Linked DNA regions of Homo sapiens. The protein of the gene in region 1 purifies or fractionates together with the protein of each later gene. This does not show direct contact. Each region holds a gene or a part of one and is shown in the gene's direction. Other genes may lie near its edges.

Region 1 (6,204 bases):
AACGGAACCTATTCTCAGCAAATGTGCACATACAATAAAAATGTATATATCCAGCCTGGGTGCGGCAGCTCATGCCTGTAATCCCAGTGCTTCGGGAGGCTGAGGCAGGGGGCTCACTTGAGGTCAAGAATTGGAGACCAACCTGGGCAATGTAGGGAGACACTGTCTGTACAAAAATTTAAAGAAATTAGCTGGGAGTTGTGGCGTGCACCAGTAGTCCCAGTTACTCAGAAGGCTGAGGTGAGAAGATCCCTTTAGCCCAGGAGTTGAAGGCTACAGTGAACTATAAATGCACCACTGGACTCTAGTCTGGACAACAGAGTGAAACCACGACCACACACACACACACACACACACACACACACACAAGTTTGAACATAATTTTAGGGGATTCATAGTTTAATAATGCCTGAACCCAAGGAATAGATGAGCTCTCTTTAACATGGCTCAGCTGCTATTTGTGTCTTCCCCTTCTTATCTCTTTGTCAAGTAGCTTCTTCTTTCTGTCCTTTATGGTTTCCTCTTTTTCATGATGTCAACTTGCTTATATAAAATAAAAACATACATCCACACAAAAACTTATACGTGATTGTATATGGCAGCATTATTTATAACAGCTAAAAGATGAAAATGCCTAAATATTCATCAACATATGATGGATAAACAGAATGGGGTGTGCAAATAGAACAAAACACTATTCAGGCTCCTAGGGTACAGATCTTCTTCTCACAAGAGTGTGCATACTCCACTACTTCCTAAACATATGCAATTTTACATGCCCTTTCAGGTGGCCCACAGACTTCATCAATTGGGAATACTTGGTCTAGGTCAATATGGACAGCATGGCAGAACTCCTTAGACACTGGCCTAAATTTGCTGAGACAGTCATAGGTTAGTATGGACTGGCAGGCAGCAATCCTGCAGCAAGGTTAGGCTCCCTCTGGGTTCCCTGAAGATACAGAGTTTGGGGGTGAGAGGCCCGCCAGACTGCACTTTTTAGGCTAGGCGGGAGGTAACAGACAGGGTCTAGGGAGGCTTCCACTCAGGCACTGTGAATAAGGGCAGAGAGCAGGCAGGTTGCAGGGGACTCTACCCCAGCAATCACTTCAGGCCTCATGAACACCCTCAGCTGCAAGGGTCTAGAAGAGATCTGTTCTAGTTTTCTAGAGGCATGAACAATGCTCCACTCTGTGCTGGGGCTGGGTTATCCCTGTGGGAATTAGGGGGAGGGAGGAGGGAAGGAGCCAAAGGCATTTACTCATATCACCACCTTGGTCACCTGTCCAGTTATATTCTTGGACAGATGACTCTTGAGCAACAGAGTCATGTGCCTGGGGATGAGAAATGCAGGGGATGAGAAATTCTAGAATATGAGGGGGTGGAGAAGAACACCTTCCCCTGATCTTGGCAGGGCAGGGAGGATAGGACCATTTCTGCATCCTTCACATCTCCTGCAGCCTTGGTCTCACAGCTCTTCCCTTCCCCTAGAGCTAAACATTTGAATGAAAATAGCCATGAGCCAAATTTTTTAAAGAGACATTTTTGAATTTTCTTTCAACCATCAGATTCCAGCAAGTCTATTTAGCACTCAGTAATCGTTTGGGAACATTAAATGTGTGTGTGTGTGTGTGTGTGTGTGTGTGTGTGTGTGTGTGTGTGTGTTAAATAGAACGTGAGAGAACCAGCTATTTATGAAAAATTTCTAATGTATATTTTGCTTGTTGCCAATTGAATTCCTTGTGTATATGGCAAAAGTTAATATTATGAACCTAATTTGGTCTCTCTTCTGAGTAGAAAATTTTGAAATCTTTTAAGTTTTTCTCTCTCTTAAACACTTTCTCATAAATGAAATAGCTTTATTTAATTTTGTGCTTATAAGAATAACCCATGCTGAGGAGAGTGAATTAAATAAGATCAAAAAAATTTAAAAAAATAAAACCCCTATTTTAACTACTTGTGTCCCTACTTGACAATCCACCTTGTACCCATTATGAGAAGGTCTGGTTCACAGGCAGAATGAACATCAGTGGCTGCGTGTAGAATTAGATCGAGTAGGTGCCTTCGGATAAAAGGAGAGAAAGAAAAAAAATTCCTCTGAGATGTACCAATGGCCAATAGCTCTAGAAGAAGGTGCGGTCCCTCCCTGATAACCACGGAAGAATAAATACATACTACACAGAGAAAGGGCCACATTTGACCTGTGGGATTAGCAAAGACCAAAATGAGTGACAGGGCCCCGTGCTGTGGGGCGAGAGAGAGAGCTAAGCCGGGGTTGGGGGTGCTGAGGGCGCTCAGACGGACAGACTAGTGAAGGGAAGAAGTGGGCTGGCTCCTGACGCACTTTCTGCGGGTGGGAGGGGAACTAGGGACCCGAGCCCACTGGTGACGTTTTTCTCACGTGATCTGAAGCCGACGTGTGCAGAAGTCCCTCTCCTCCAGGTACCAGATCCCTGTTTCCGTGGAGGAAGGCAGACTTCAGACTGAAGGACAGAGAAGGCAACTGCCCTACAGCCCTGCAGGTCGGTACAAGCCGGGGACCCCTGAGGTAGGGATGGTAATGCACATAGGCTACAGAGGATCGGATCTGCTTTCTAGATACCGCCCTGTTCCACCCCCATTCATTTTGGCGCAGAAATTTTTTTGTGTTGGGCAAGAGGTATGGGTACCAGCTTTTATTTCCCTGGAGAAGTGCAGGCTTCTGGCAGAAGGAAATGTGAGAAAGAGTCATTTCCCCGAGATGGCTACGAACCCATCCACAGCCTGTGGATCCCTGTGGTTGGGATGGCAGAGGGCAAAGACCAGAGCGGGTCCAGGACTGGATTCTCTCCACTCCTTTCCCGATGCTCACTCATTTGGTGCAAGAAATGGAGGGCTTGGTGCGGGGCGGGGAGGGGGGAGGGGGGCGGAACTCGAGAGAGGTCAAGGGTTGAGAATTGGGTACCAGTTGGGAACTCCTAGGAAGCCGGCGACCGGGTGATGTCTGATGGAGGAGGAGGAGGACCAGGGAAGAGAACAGCGACGAAACGGCGAGAAAACGGCCTGATCCCTGCAAGGCAGCGGGAGGCGGGCACAGTCAGTGACCCCAGGCTGCTGAGGGCGGACCCTGCAACGGGTCCAGGCCTGAGTTCCCTGTGTCTTTTCTCCAACCTCCCTCCATTTTGGAGCCGGAAACGGTGGGCTAAGGGGGTCAGGGGAAGGAGGTGCTGTAGAAAAAGGGAGACAGAGGTTTGATCTGGGGATCAGCTCCCTATCCAGGAGGAGTGGCTTCTGAAGTAGGAGGATTGAGATGAGGTAGCAGCAAGACCAAAAATGTTACCGGGTTTGGAAATAATTTGTCTCTTGCATTGCAGAAAAATGTGGGCTTTCTGTGTATGTGGGGAGGGAGGAGGTGGCAGGAGTGTTTTGGACATTTCTGCCCTGCCCCCTATCTCTGTCATCACCATTTTCAGAGAAGTGGTGGGCTCTGCTATTTGGCTACCCTAGGGTGAGGGATTTGGAATGTAGAGATCTGAGTGCATCAGAACACTCTGTCTTCAGAACATCCTTGTCTCTAACCCTACTCATTTTCGTGCCAGAAAAGTGAGATAAAAATTTGGGAGGAAGATTCAGAAACATAGAAACGCTTTGGAAATAATCTTTCTCGCCTATTTCCCACAAGTAGAACAATGGAGGCTCTTAAGAAAGAGCTGCGCGCGGAGGGGGAATCAGAGAATGCAAGGGAAAAGGCGAGGAGGTGATAGGAGCTCGGAAAGTTTTGACAAATACGGTCCCAAAGAACCAGTGTCCAAGTTACCAGTCATTCACTTTCTCAATTTCTCATTCACCCACCTGTTTCTTGTCTTTCTGCAGGTCTTCAAGTCTGTGGTTGTGGGCACTAACCCAGACAAGAAAAGGAAAGACCTGCAGTATCGGTGCAGGTCAGTGGGAGAGGGCTACTGCACCAGGACCCTTGGGAGTAGGAGTAACTTAAGCCAGAGCAGAAGTTGGGGAGGCCACTGCCTGCCACCCCTCCTCCAATCCTCCCTCTTGCAGTTTCGGGATACATGACTGCTGTCAAGACCCTAAGGGGATATGGTGATCTATGGCTGGTGAGGATAGAGGGGAGAATAAGAAAGTAAGAGAATGGAGGTGTAGCATCTGTGATGCCCCCTGAGGACATAAGGGTAGCCCTGAAATCTGAGAACTGGCTATGGTTCTGTTCTGTCTGCAGTTTTATAAGTCTTACAACTGCATGCAAGGGGAAAAAGAAGAAAACTGCCCAGGATTTCTGCAGGTCCGTGTAAATTGGAACTACCCAGTTAAAATTGGTATGGGTAGGCATAGCCAAGGCCAGAGCAAAGTTTAAGGGCCAATATGCTCCTACGCATTTCTCAGCACATCCTCCTTAAATGTAGGGAGAAGCACCTGTGGAAGTTTCTGTAAGGTTGGCTTGTGTGAACATGTGTAAAGTGAAAAGGAAAGGAAGGAATGTAAGGGTGGGAGTGCACCTGGAAGATGGGATAGGGCCAGGAAAACCCTAAGTTAAGAAAGACAAGTACTATAAGGACCTGTGTTCAACCCCCAAAGCCCTCAGTGTCCTGTGTCTTCTTTTTGTCTCCTAGGAAAGGCAAAGAAGGGAACATCTCAACATGGAAAAGCTCTACAAAGAAAATGAAGGAAAGCCAGAGAATGAAAGAAACCTAGAAAGTGAGGGAAAGCCAGAGGATGAGGGAAGTACAGAAGATGAAGGAAAGTCAGACGAGGAAGAAAAGCCGGACATGGAGGGGAAGACAGAATGCGAGGGAAAGCGAGAGGATGAGGGAGAGCCAGGTGATGAGGGACAACTGGAAGATGAGGGAAACCAGGAAAAGCAGGGCAAGTCTGAAGGTGAGGACAAGCCACAAAGTGAGGGCAAGCCAGCCTCCCAGGCCAAGCCAGAGAGCCAGCCGCGGGCCGCCGAAAAGCGCCCGGCTGAAGATTATGTGCCCCGGAAAGCAAAAAGAAAAACCGACAGGGGGACGGACGATTCCCCCAAGGACTCTCAGGAGGACTTACAAGAAAGGCATCTGAGCAGTGAGGAGATGATGAGAGAATGTGGAGATGTGTCAAGGGCTCAGGAGGAGCTAAGGAAAAAACAGAAAATGGGTGGTTTTCATTGGATGCAAAGAGATGTACAGGATCCATTCGCCCCAAGGGGCCAACGGGGTGTGAGGGGAGTGAGGGGCGGAGGTAGGGGCCAGAAAGACTTAGAAGATGTCCCATATGTTTAATGTCTTTGGCCTTTAATTCTGATTTCTCTGATGGGAATATTGCCAGTCCTGCTTTTCCTGGCAGGCATTTGCCGGCCTATGTGCTTTAACCTTAAGCTGATACTTTCCTTTAGGTGTCACTCTTGTTACCAGCAGACTTTTGACCCAACTACAGTGCTCTGTCTTTTAGTAGAGGATTTTCACCCATGTGCATGGAATAAATGTTCATGGTACATTGTAAAATAACAATAAAAAAGAGTTTTCAGAACCATGTATACAGTATCAGCCCATTTCTGAAAAAAAATGTTTACATAATATATCCATACATGGGGGACACTATGCAATTGAGTAGATCAAAGAGAAATCATGAATTTCTTTGTGTGGTGGGACTGAAAATTATTCTTTTTCTCATCTGTACTTCTTTTAAATCTAAAAAGCACAGGCTATTTTTGTTTTAAAGGAAGTAATAAAAGGTAAACAAAATAGGAAAATAGTAAATACTAGGCAATCAAAAGAACTATTCATTGATCATATTAAGGCAGTGGAGACAAAATTCTTGTTAGAACACAAAATGATAGATAAAACTCACATTACCCCTGGGACTTGAAGTTGGAGGAATCAACCTGGCAGTTACTACAGATTCATTGCTATAAGAGACAGCCTTGTGTGAAATGGGGCTGAAACTTACCTCCCAGGGCTGTGGAGTAGATCAGATGTGACGCTTGAGTCTGTGACCTATGTTAGGCTGGCTCCTGCCCTCTCCCCTGCACTAACAGTACCAAGTCAGACAGTTGGTGAGGGTATGGAGTGTTGCGGAGGGAGGTCTCACCTGTGCCTAAAAATAGGTACAGGAAGCTGAGAGATAGTTGCCACTTTCCCCTGGGTAATGCCACATCTGTTGGGCATTGTGCCCCCTCTCCAGGGTCCTGCACCCTCTAAGGCCCCAGTTGTTGCTGGTGGGCTAGAGTCTTCAAGG
Region 2 (4,316 bases), on another chromosome or scaffold:
GAAAAAAATATTATAAATTGATTTCAGTCCATAAAAAACAGCATGCAGCAGTTTGTGCTATCTTAAAAACCCCAACTCAGGATAACCCTAGGAGAAAATCACCTCCCCCCATTAAAGAAGAATTCTCTTTTCTATTCTTTCTTGTCTAAATTTCACTGCTTATTCCACAAAACGCCGAAAGAATAACAAGACTCAGTTCACATCCCTCAGCCCTTGTCTGTCTGTTAAGGCCAACACCAAGCGCTGTTCCTTAGGAGTCTTCACCTTTACTACAATCAGAAAATTGAGCCCTAATTTCACGGCCAGATTTCTAGAAACCTGCAAAACCCTCATAGTTCCCTCAAGGAAGGACCTGAAGGCCCCTTGAAAGATCAAGGGAGTATAAGTGTACTTGGCAGAGACTGGAATGCCTGCCAGGCTGGGAAAAGGGGGCCTTTCTACACAAAAACACCCCCTAAAATACCTTGTAGTTGAAAGTCTAACTAGGCAAAACCAAGTAACAGCAGGCATCAAACTATGGTTCTACCTAAAGGGTATATATCTTCCCCCTTTAACCATAAAGGTAAGGCGGGGGGCGGGGTGTGGGGTAAAGAGAGCCAAGTGAGCATTTGACTTCATCTGTCTTCTGAGAAGTTAGCATATTTTAGGCTGAAGCCATGTTGTAGAGACATTTGGCCAAAGGATAGTCTTTGCTATGTGTGGCTATATAAAGCTGCCATTTCTGGGCAACCTGGTTCATGGCTGCTTTATGGAAGCTTTACCCCTTATGCAGAGTATTTAAGAATTAATAGGAAATTTTTCAGTTTGATTTTGTAAGTGACAAATACTTTAACAACAGCTTCCCAATAACCACCAATGGAGACAGACTACTCCTCAGCTCAGGATCATAGCTCCTTCCAGTCAGTGGGCTTCTTGCTAGACATCTGCAGGAGCTCATTGGTCTTAGAAAATTGTCTACATCCAAAGAACCCTCTGTACACGGGAAGGAATGAGCCATCTGCAGCACATGGTGCTGCTTCCTGTGGATGGCACTGCCCTTCTTCTTAGCATAACAGCCCCAGAGCAGAAAGACAAGGCCATTCGAGTTCTGATTTAGCCAGGACACAACCGCATTGGTAAATTGCTCCCAGCCTCCTCTTTCCTTATGAAAATTGGCTTGATGGGGCAGAACAGTGAGGACAGCCTGGAGTAGGAGAACACCTTATTTGGCCCACCCAGATAAATCTCCATGACCAGGATGAATAAAACCATATCTGTAGATGGCTCTTTATAAATGTTTTCCAAACCAGGCAGAGGTGGAACAGGTCTTTGAACACTAAAGCAGCCCATGAACTTGATTCGGTCTCTAATATGGGTCCTGTCCTGGGATGACAACCTTCACATCTCTTATGTCACACATCTGGGTCCAGGTGAAGACTTAGTGTGGGGGTGGATAAACAGTGTAATGTTTCCTTTCTTCTGCGACAAATCCTTTTATCTTGATAAAATAACGTTTCCCGAATTCCATTGAGGTGCTTCTTCCAACTCTCACCAAAGCCCATGGACATGTTACAGGCCATGAGTCTTGAGTAGGGCCACAGCCTCGTTGCTCTGGATACTGACCAACTGCCCAGCAGCAAGAAGGGCAGCGTCTTGGGCTTGTCTTATCTGGCCGGGGCCTTCTTGGCAGGAGCGGCCCCCGCATCCTCACTCTCCTCACCATGGCTGCCCTGCTGGTCCCCAGGTCATCCGGCTCAGGGCTGCAGGCACGTTGCTTCCTGGTGGGGCTGTGGGAACGAATGCACACCACTTGGGGACTGCAAGGCTTGCCCTGGCTGTAGTGTTCAGTAATTGATCTATATTGCTTTTTGACTTACTGAATTGCAGAGTTGGGAGGAACATTAGATCAGTGATTTCTCAGACCATAATGTGCATATGAATAATCTGGAGATCTTGTTATATTGCAAAGGAGGGGCCTAGTTTCTGTGTTTCAAACAGTTCTCAAGTTATAGTGATGCAGTTTCAGGTTCACACAACACACTTCCAGTAGCAAGGCTTTAAATGATTATGAAACGGGAATAATGTCTATCTTTCAGAATCATTTTAAGAATAAGAGATAATACATGTTAAGCATCTCAAAGTGTTTCCGGCACTTTGTAGTTCCCCAGTACATGATTAGCTATATTGTGATTAGTAATACCTTCCTTTATAGAGGAGGAAATGAATTCAGAGAGGTTGTCACTAGCAAAGGTCACATTTGCTTATATATGTTGATGTAAATTGTTTGTGTTACTTAACATATTTCTTATAGATATTTATATGCTAACAATACAGCATTCTCTTATAAGTAGCAGAAGTAATGCTGAATCTTTCAGTGCTCATGTGTATTAAAGAAGAGGGGAAGTAACATAATTTACCTCTACATCTTGCCTGATTATCACAACAGCTCTGTAATGTAGTCAAGAGACTCAGAGAGAATGAATAATTTACTCATGTTCACATGCATAAATAAGTGGCAAAGCTGGAATTTGAACTTGGATCTGTGAATCCAAAGTTCTTATGTTACATCATTGCTACCTCTCACAGCTCCCTGTCTACCACAGGCATTGACATGTGTTATATGTCGACAGGAATAACATTGTTGCTGTTACTTTTTAAATCTTTTGGACCCTTATAATTAGAATAGACATGGTAAAAATAAGAATGATTCAGGTTGAACATTAAAAAAATCTTCTTGGTCATTCAGGTTCTACTTAAAACAGGTACAACTGATTTGAATAAGAAAAAATTGAAGGTGTGGGCATGTCTAACATCCTAATTGCATTTTGCTTTTTCTATCCCTGGTTTGAATTCTTTGTTATAATACATTTTTATGCATTATCTGGGGAAATGATAGGGAACTAGTGAAAAAGAAGACTATGGAAAATATAGCTATCAAAAACTTGGCCAGGTGCAGGGATTACCCCTGTAATCCCAGCACTTTGGGAGGCTGAGGCAGGAGGATCACTTGAGGCCAGGAGTTCAAAACCAGACTGAGCAACATAGTTGAGACCTCATCTCTATTTAAAAAAAAAAAAAATTAGCCAGGAGTGGTGGCATATGCCTATAGTTCCAGCTACTTAGGAGGCTGAGGTGGGAGGATCGCTTGAGCCCAGGAGGTTGAGAGTGCAGTGAGCTGTGATTGTGTTACTGCACTTCAGTCTGGGCAACAGTCAGACCCTGTCTCAAAACAAAACAAAACAAAAATTTAAAAAAACCCTTAATCTACATTAGCATGAGCAATAATTAAAACCAAACCCTTTATTATAATGAAAAAATGTTTTATATAATGGTTGTAATGGTAATGACACTATACATTTGTCAGAATTCATGGAAAGAATGCAGATAAAATTGGTGAATTTCATTTTAATTGATTTAATAAAATTAAACCCATTAGAGAGGTTGACTTGAATTTTTTTTTCTGACCTTTTTTTTTTTTTTTTTTTTTTTTGAGACAGAGTCTTGCTCTGTCGCCCAGGCTGGAGTGCAGTGGCACAATCTCGGCTCACTGCAAGCGTCCGCCTCCCAGGTTCACGCCATTGTCCTGCCTCAGCCTCCCGAGTAGCTGGGACTACAGGCGCCCGCCACCATGCCCAGCTAATTTTTTTGTATTTTTAGTAGAGACGGGGTTTCACCGTGTTAGCCAGGATGGTCTCGATCTCCTGACCTCGTGATCGGCCCCCCTTGGCCTCCCAAAGTGCTGGGATTACAGGCGTGAGCCACCGCGCCCGGCCTCTGACCTTGTTTTTATATAGATTGATCATAATATCAATACTTTCTATTCTCAGTAAATTAGGCTGTCACCAAAGAAAGCTATTATATTCATTTAGACTTGGAGCTCAAAAAGAGACACTTGTTTTTAAAGGAAGGAGCACTGTTGAAATAACAGTCTCTATAACCTCAGGAACAGATTAAGTACATTGCTAGAATGAGCTATAGAAAGGACTGCTATCTTCTGGAATATGTAGGAGGAAAATGTTGTTATGACAAAAATTGGTGAGAATTCAGTCATAGTCCACCATTTCTGTAATTATGATGGCGATTATAGTATTAAGGGAAACAATTGGAAAACTTTAACTTTTATCTGGATGAATCATGATTCAGTTTATTCCTTTCTTATGCCTTCTTACTGTTTAAGATATAATACACAGAGAAGGAATCTCAGTACTGTCTTGCTTGTCTCTAGACGGCTAAGGACAAATTTATGAATGTTTGTGTTTTTTTTTTCTTTTTCTCTGAATTATCTGCTTAGATACAGGGACTCCATTTTTTTCCTACTTACAAGATCTTTAATCCTA
Region 3 (3,569 bases), on another chromosome or scaffold:
AAATGTAATTCTTTAAGAGGAAATGCTAAACTTTCACTATCACTTATGGGAAGTGAACAGAAGAGATTTTAGGTAAGGGAAGTTTAAGGCATAAAGATGTTAAAAGAAAACTGACAACGGACTTCCTATTTTTTAAAAATGATGACTATCATGTAACAGCAATAATGCTGTGACGAGAGTTTATAAACATATTTGATAGAGTTTCTGCCCACCTGGCACAAATTTGTAAGTGCCTCATGATTTTTTATTAATCTTTGCAATTTCTTTCTAGATGCTGTTCATGCAATATTAGCATACAGTCAAAGTGCAGAAGAACTTCTGAGGCGTAGAAAAGTCCACCGAGAAGTTATATTTAAGTACTTGGCAACACAGGGGATTGTTATACCTCCAGCTACTGAAAAACACAATCTTATTCAGCATGCAAAAGATTACTGGCAAAAGCAACCACAACTGAAATTGAAGGAAACGCCAGAGCCAGTTACAAAGACAGAGGACATCCACCTATTTCAACAGGTAAAATAAATCTTATGGTTGTATTCTGAACCTTTGTTCTGTCTGAAACTTTGTTGATAATCCTAGATTGTGGGGAACATGGTTAATAATGTTTGTGGGGTTTTTTTATTTTTATTTTTTAAGAGATTCTTGCTCTGTTGCCCAGGCTGGAGTGCAGTGGTGTAATCATAGCTCACTGCAGCCTTGAACTTCTGGACTCAAGTGTTCTGCCCACCTCTGTCTCCTGAGTAGCTAGGGCTACAGGCATGCACCACCATGCCTGGCTAATTTTTAAAATTTTTTGGTAGGGATAGGGTCCCAACTATGTTGCCCAGGCTGGTCTTGAACTCCTGACCTCAAGTGGTCCTCCCGCCTCAGCTGGAATTACAGGCATGAGCCACCATGCCCAGCCTATTTTTTTTATATTTTATAATTTTAACTTTATTTCATATCCTATCAATCCTGAAGGAAGGAAGAGACCAGTAAAGCAACTAAGAGCAAAAATATTTCTGACATATAGTGATGCATATATAATCATCTATTGATATGTGAGAAAGTATTTTTCAATATCAGCATCATCAAATGAGGACTATTGGATTTTTAGAGAGTAAACTGCAAGGTTAATTTTAACTTTAGCTCCGTGTAATTTTTTTTCACTTTAGAAGAATTTTATTGCAAATTCTTTCTCACTTTTAAGACGTTTTTGGTATTGCAAAAATGTCATGAAAGGAACTTAAAATTTTACTTTAAAAAAAATTTTCTTTTAAGTTCCAGGGTACGTGTGCAGGTTTGTTAGATAGGTAAACATGTGCCATGGTGGTTTGCTGCGCCTATCAACCTATCACCTAGGTATGAAGCCCAGCATGCGTTAGCTATTTTTCTTGATGCCCCCGCCCCCACATTGGAACCTAAATATTTTTTATACTTTTTTTTTTTTAACTAGAAAAAGTCCTATTGTAGAAATATTCTCCAGCGGACATTGGCTGTTTCTGTTCTTTATATTATCTCCACTGTACATTTTAGATACTGCACAAATATTTAAGTGTTGCTTGAATTAACCTCTATGTAATTTGCAGATTTTTAAACTACATACCACATTTTTTGAATTAATGAGGTTTCACAGTGAGAAAGCTTTGCCTTCACACTAGGAAAGAATCTTTAAGAGCTTTCTTACTTTATGTACTGATAAGAGCATTGACTTTGAAATCATACAAATACGACTTCAAATTAGGGTCTGCAATATACTAGGTGTGTTAAATTAGGCAAATAACCAGTGCCACGCACAGTGCCCAGTGTATTAAATAGCAGGTGCTCAGTAAACCTAAGATCTCATACATCTCAGTAAAGTACTGTGTTGTGGAACACATGGATGAATGAGATCTAGTGTATCAGGTAGATTTTTACAGTAACTTTTTTTTTTTTTTTTTGAGACAAAGTCTGCCCTGTCACCCAGGCTGGAGTACAGTTGGCATGATCTCAGCTCACTGCAGCCTCCACCCTCTGGGTTCAAGCACTTCTCCTGCCTCAGCCTCCCAAGTAGCTGGAATTACAGGCATGCGCCACTACACTCAGCTAATTTTTGTGTTTTTAGTAGAGACGGGGTTTCACCATGTTGTCAAGACTGGTCTTGAACTCCTAACCTCAAGTGATCTGCCTGCCTCAGCCTCCCAAAGTGCCGGGATTACAGGCATGAACCACCACGCCCAGCTTACAGTAACATTTTCTGTGAAAAAAGAGAAATAATAGAATAAAATTAATCCCAGTTATAGAAAATAACCTGTTTCAATCACCGTAAGAGTATCTATTTAAAGACAATGAAAATGCTTGCTTATATTAACTTTATGTCATTTATATGCAAAATGCATCCATTTAAAGTGAACGTTTTGAAGGTTTTCACATATATACCTGTGATATACATATATACCTGTGAAAACACTGCCACAATCTGAGGAAACACTTACATAAATCATCATATAATTTATATATTTTTATATATGACTGTTCATACTGATTTTTTTTTTTTTTTCACACGGAGTCTCGCTCTGTTGCGCGGGCTGGAGTGCAGTGATGCTATCTTGGCTCACTGCAACCTCCACCTCCCAAGTTCAAGTGATTCTCCTGCCTCAGCCTCCTGAGTAGCTGGGAATACAGGTACACGCCACCATGCCCGGCTAATTTTTGTATTTTTAGTAGAGACGGGGTTTCACTATATTGGCCAGGCTGGTCTCAAACTCCTGACCTCACCATCCGCCTGCCTCCTCCTCCCAAAGTGCTGGGATTACAGGCGTGAGCCACCACGCCCGCCAAGTTCATACTGATTTTTAAATTGGCCTTACTAAACCTTACTCTCTTAGCTGAATTTTCAGCAATTTAAGCTGGAAATTTCTAAAATGATTTTTCTCCTCTTGAAAAAAGATTTTTACTATGCATAATGGGTTCAGCAAGTTCACATATGGTTCATTTCTCTCTGGTGTAATGGGTTCATTCAAACTTAATAGGCTAGATAGAAAAATAGATATGAAAGTTAAACCTTAGTGTTATTTTGTATTTATTTTATTTGTTTCAATCAGCAGGTGAAAGAAGATAAAAAAGCTGAAAAAGTTGATTTTCGTCGCCTAGGAGAAGAATTCTGTCATTGGTTCTTTGGACTTCTTAATTCTCAGAATCCTTTTCTAGGACCACCTCAAGATGAATGGGGACCACAGCACTTCTGGCATGATGTGAAGCTTAGGTTTTATTACAACACATCAGAACAAAATGTTATGGACTACCATGGAGCAGAAATCGTGAGCCTTCGTTTGCTGTCACTAGTAAAAGAAGAATTTCTTTTTCTCAGCCCCAACCTAGATTCACATGGACTGAAATGTGCATCTTCTCCTCATGGGCTGGTTATGGTTGGAGTTGCTGGGACTGTCCATCGAGGAAACACTTGTTTGGGCATTTTTGAACAAATTTTTGGACTCATCCGCTGCCCTTTTGTGGAGAATACTTGGAAAATCAAATTTATCAACCTGAAAATTATGGGAGAGAGTTCCCTTGCTCCTGGAACATTACCGAAACCATCTGTTAAATTTGAA

Evidence for each region.
Region 2: the proteins of TCEAL5 (region 1) and KLHL8 purify together in Homo sapiens (affinity purification with mass spectrometry; one large-scale study listed by BioGRID and IntAct). This does not show direct contact.
Region 3: the proteins of TCEAL5 (region 1) and C3orf38 purify together in Homo sapiens (affinity purification with mass spectrometry; one large-scale study listed by BioGRID and IntAct). This does not show direct contact.

The regions. Positions count from the first base shown.
Region 1 is NC_000023.11:103,272,988-103,279,191, reverse strand, and holds TCEAL5 (transcription elongation factor A protein-like 5), read left to right. Parts: upstream 1-2,441; 5' UTR 2,442-2,519; intron 2,520-3,849; 5' UTR 3,850-3,917; intron 3,918-4,601; 5' UTR 4,602-4,628; coding exon 4,629-5,249; 3' UTR 5,250-5,501; downstream 5,502-6,204. UniProt on the Homo sapiens protein: May be involved in transcriptional regulation.
Region 2 is NC_000004.12:87,164,303-87,168,618, reverse strand, and holds part of KLHL8 (kelch-like protein 8), read left to right. Parts: intron 1-687; exon of another isoform or gene 688-1,773; intron 1,774-4,316. UniProt on the Homo sapiens protein: Substrate-specific adapter of a BCR (BTB-CUL3-RBX1) E3 ubiquitin ligase complex required for The BCR(KLHL8) ubiquitin ligase complex mediates ubiquitination and degradation of RAPSN.
Region 3 is NC_000003.12:88,152,959-88,156,527, forward strand, and holds part of C3orf38 (uncharacterized protein C3orf38), read left to right. Parts: intron 1-271; coding exon 272-513; intron 514-3,062; coding exon 3,063-3,569.